Linked DNA regions of Homo sapiens: region 2 is linked to region 1. Evidence: fine-mapped expression QTL. Tissue or cell type: tibial artery. Region 1 holds a variant in brackets; the other region holds the start of a gene. All regions are shown on one strand. Distances are between the middles of the regions.

The links. PIP is the estimated chance that this variant, and not a neighbour inherited with it, causes the effect.
Region 2: PHKA2-AS1 starts here. The variant in region 1 is fine-mapped to the expression of PHKA2-AS1 in tibial artery (GTEx, PIP 0.97).

The regions. Positions count from the first base shown.
Region 1 is chrX:19,779,675-19,782,174 of GRCh38, forward strand. The region is part of intron 2 of SH3KBP1 (SH3 domain containing kinase binding protein 1); the gene reads right to left. Among named protein-coding and RNA genes, the nearest start is that of SH3KBP1, 110 kb to the right of the region's middle. The variant G/A (reference allele first, on the strand shown) is at 1,091.
Region 2 is chrX:18,888,743-18,891,242 of GRCh38, forward strand. It overlaps PHKA2-AS1 (PHKA2 antisense RNA 1), which reads left to right and starts at 1,554. Exons shown (of 3, transcript NR_029379.1): 1 at 1,554-1,886.

The DNA of each region.
Region 1 (2,500 bases):
GTGTTTGGTTTTTTGTTCTTACAATAGTTGACTGAGAATGATGATTTCCAATTTCATCCATGTCCCTACAAAGGACATGAACTCATCATTTTTTATGGCTGCATAGTATTCCATGGTGTATATGTGCCACATTTTCTTAATCCAGTCTATCATTGTTGGACATTTGGGTTGGTTCCAAGTCTTTGCTATTGTGAATAATGCCGCAATAAACATACGTGTGCATGTGTCTTTATAGCAGCATGATTTATAGTCCTTTGGGTATATACCCAGTAATGGGATGGCTGGGTATATACCCAGTAATGGGATGGTATTTCCAGTTCTAGATCCCTGAGGAATCGCCACACTGACTTCCACAATAGTTGAACTAGTTTACAGTCCCACCAACAGTGTAAAAGTGTTCCTATTTCTCCACATCTTCTCCAGCACCTGTTGTTTCCTGACTTTTTAATGATTGCCATTCTAACTGGTGTGAGATGGTATCTCATTGTGGTTTTGATTTGCATTTCTCTGATGGCCAGTAATGATGAGCATTTTTTCATGTGTCTTTTGGCTGCATAAATGTCTTCTTTTGAGAAGTGTCTGTTCATGTCCTTCGCCCACTTTTTGATGGGGTTGTTTGTTTTTTTCTTGTAAATTTGTTTGAGTTCATTGTAGATTCTGGATATTAGCCCTTTGTCAGATGAGTAGGTTGCGAAAATTTTCTCCCATTTTGTAGGTTGCCTGTTCACTCTGATGGTAGTTTCTTTTGCTGTGCAGAAGCTCTTTAGTTTAATTAGATCCCATTTGTCAATTTTGGCTTTTGTTGCCATTGCTTTTGGTGTTTTAGACATGAAGTCCTTGCCCATGCCTATGTCCTGAATGGTATTGCCTAGGTTTTCTTCTAGGGTTTTTATGGTTTTAGGTCTAACGTTTTAAGTCTTTAATCCATCTTGAATTGATTTTTGTATAAGGTGTAAGGAAGGGATCCGGTTTCAGCTTTCCACATATGGCTAGCCAGTTTTCCCAGCACCATTTATTAAATAGGGAATCCTTTCCCCATTGCTTGTTTTTCTCAGGTTTGTCAAAGATCAGATAGTTGTAGACATGCGGC[G/A]TTATTTCTGAGGGCTCTGTTCTGTTCCATTGATCTATATCTCTGTTTTGGTACCAGTACCATGCTGGAAAACAGCACTTTAAATGACTGACTCCACTGATCAGTATTTACATATGCACTTTCTAAATTTTAGCAGTCTGTCTATAATTATTGTCTTATAATCAATTCCTAGAAATGGAATTACTGATACAGTAGATATAAAACTATACACAAATATTTCTATACAAAGATAATTATTGCAGCTTTATTTTCAAGGGCAAAAAAAGATGGGAAACAATGTCTGCCATGAAGTGGCTAGTTAAATAGATTGTGGTATATTCTTACAATGAGATTTAAAATGTTCTCAGAAGAGATATAATACTTTTGGGGAAGTGCTCATAATATATTAAGTGGACAAGGGATCAATATAGCAGATACAATGTACCAGTATGTCTAAGTCTAATATAGAGAATGCCTTGGGGATCTTGCTAAACTGCAGATTCTGCATTTCTAACAGGCTCCAGGTGATGGGATTGTCCTTCTCCATATTTTACAATCAGAAATGTTTTCTTAAGTTTTAAATAAAACTTTAGGCCAAGCATGGTGGCTCATGTCTGCAATCTCAGCACTTTGGGAGGCCAAGGTGGGAGGATCGCTTAAGTACAAGAGTTCTAGACCAGCCTAGGCAACATAGTGAAACCCGTCTAAACAACAACAACAACAAATTAGCCAAGCATAGTGGCATGCACCTGTGGTCCCAGCTGCTCAGAAGGCTGAGGTGGGAGGATCACTTGAGCCCAGGAGGTCGAGACTGCAGTGAGCCATGATTGTACCACTGTACTCTAGTCTGGGTGACAGAGTGGGACTCGGTCACAAAAAAAAAAAAACAACTCATATGAAACATCCAGAAAAGGCAGATCTAGAGAGACAGCAGACAGCAGGCAGTGAAGCTGGGAGTGGGAATGGGAATTAACAATAAATGGGCATGAAGGATGTGGATGTTATTGGGGTGATGAAAATGTTCTAAAGCATTTTATGATGATGGTTGCATAACTGGGTATGTTTACTAAAAACCATTGAGCTATATTCTTGAAATGGGTGAATTACATGATATTTAAAATGTGCCTCAATAAAGTTACTTTCTGAAGGATTTTTTTAAATGACCAGGCAGATTTTTTAAACTATCACATTATGAAGGCTTCTGTTTCTTCTGCTTCCTTTTCAAGGCCCCATCCTGAATTGCTACTCCTACTGTGGTAAATTGAATGGCAACCCCCTAAAAAGATATGTCAACATTCTAATTCCCAGAATCAGGATCTTATTTGGGGAAAGGGTCCTTGCTGATGTAGTTAAGGATCCTGAGATGAAGAGATCATTCTGGATTATCCTGGGGGTCCCTAAATCCAATGACAAGTGTTGTCCTCATATGAG
Region 2 (2,500 bases), 890 kb before region 1:
TGCAATCACGGTTCACTGCAGCCTTGACTTCCCAGGCTTAAGTGATCCTCCCACCTCAGCCTCTTGAGTAGCTGGGAAAACAGGTGTATACCACTGTGCCTTGCTGATTTTATTTTTTGTAGGGAGGGTTTCACATTGTTGCCTAGGCTGGTCTCTAGCTCCTGGGCTCGAGACCTCCTGCCTAGGCCTCCCAAAGCGCCAGGATTACAGGCACAAGCCACTACGCCTGGCTGGATGCTGTTTTTTCTAACCTCTCCCTCAGCCGAGGCAGTATGCTTGCCTGAGACCTTGAAGTGGCAGCTAGTGGCTGTTTAAAATCCCTTTTGGTGACAAGTAGAAGCCTCTACATTTAGTTTCCAAAAGAGCAGAGGCAGTGGTCCCAGTGACAGTGCCCAGCATTGGGGGTGTCTGTGGTGTAAGTCCTGGGGTATGAACCTGGGAGTACTGGAGAATGACATGGGATCTTGGTCCTGGCTAGGGAGCCGCTTAGCCTGGTGACCATGTGACCTATCCAATATTGTTTAATAAACTTCCCACTTAACCCAGCCACAGTTGGTTTCTGTTGTTTGCAAATGAACTTCGAGACAATGGCAGCTGGTGGCACAGAGATTAGAGCCAGTTACTGGGATTTCTCTTTGGCAAGTCCATCCTGGGTTTGCATCTGGGAAGATCTTTCACAAAAGGAGATGTGGAAGGCACAACCATCCCCTCGTGCCCAATTCAGATGCAGCTTACCCTTTGCAGAGCCTGGCACCTTGGCTATGCCAGCTGCAGGGGAAAGGGGTGGCGGCCACCTGCAAGGGTTGGGCCAATGCTGCACAGGATTCGGGCTCAAGACACCAACACCCTGCTAGGCCAGCGCAGGGAACACTCACCACGGGAGCCTAGGGGCTTCCTCAGGGGCCTTCAAGCACAAAAAGAGATACTTTTCACCCTCCCACCCCCCAACCAGGCTGTATGCCTGCCTGGCCCTCAGTGGGCATGGCAGAAATGCTAGGATTCGTGTTGGATTCATGCATTTTTCAGAATAGTTTAAGGACTGCACGAAGACAGAGGGACGAATCACATGACTTCAGAGTTCATTGGTTCCAACTATTCCAGCTCTCCTGAGAAGGCATGTTTTGCCAAAAGTGCACATATGTTCCTCTAAAGAAAACCATGGTAGTTTTTTGATGGAATTTTTTCCTCTCCCAGGCATCGTCAGACGTGCCCAGCACTCGACTGCAGAGCAGCCTCTCTCACAGTTTCCACTCTCATTTCTCAAAGAACTCTCTTGGTACCTCAAGGCCGTGGCTTTCCTAAGTGGCTTTTTGAGGGAGACAGCAGGGACTGGGCTTTAAGGGGGCCACAGCGCAGCTTTCTTTTCCCCTCACAGGCAGAGCTATCAGTAGCCACGTCGGGTAGAACAGAAGGCATTCTGGGAACGCGGTGCTCTCACATCCTGCAAAGTACAGGCCTGCAGAGCAGATGGCAGGGACTTCAAAAGCTAAGTCACCTTGAAAGATAATGGCACAAAGGGCGATTGGGGGTGGGGTGGGTGGGAGGCTTTTGTACCCTTTTGCAACAAGGAAGCAGAAAAGACAAAAGCTATTTGCCAGCCTGGTGCGGGAATCAACAGAATAGAGAGATGGTTCTGCTGCAATTTCCATCAAGGGTGGCCAAGCCTCCAGTCTTCTTGTCCAGAAGTAAGTGGCATCAACCAACTCTGCCAAACTGCATTTCCTGCCTCCTGATCTGGGGTCTTTTCCTTTTCTTTTTTCACACAGGGAGTATTTCCATCCTCTCTGTCCAGGCAGCTGAGCCTTGACAACCTCTCCTCCCCTTCACCATGCCCCGACTGATCTCCTAATGGAGCCCCACCCCTCGAGTCCCTGGGCCTGTGGAAGGTAGGGTCTCCCCCTCCTCCTCATCCTCCCCCACTCCACTCCAGGTGGGGTTGCAATAGGGCTTATCTGGTTTCCTCTAAGCATGAAGCCCTTGACCAGAGGAGGAGCGGGAGTTCACGTCACGCCCCCATGCTTAGTCCTGGCCTTTTGCATTTTTTGTGGATGGGTAAACTGAGGTACATAGTGGTCAACTCATGCCCAGGATCACAGAGGCACTGGCAGGGTGGCAGGAATGCTGAATTCACCTGATGAGAGCCAGGGACAGCAGCGGGTGGGGCGGTGGCTGCTTTTCAACTGAAGTTGTTAAAAGGAATGCTTATTCCTGGCCCCACCGGCTTGCCCTCCAAGGCAGAACGTGTTAATACCGAGCCCCAGCAAAGGTTCAAATTGACTTCTTGGCTCTGAGCAGGGAGGTAGAAGTTCCTGCCCCCGCCACCCCCGGCTCGAGGCTCCAGGGGCTGCCAGGCTCCTCTCGCCTGGCCTAGAAACAATCCCCTCCTGCCACCTCCACGCAGGTGCTGTCAGGACAGGCCCTCTGCCCTCAAACATCTGCTCCTCTCCTCGGGGAGGGGGGCCTCAGCTGCGCGCTGAAGGGGCCAGGCCTCAGAAGCCTG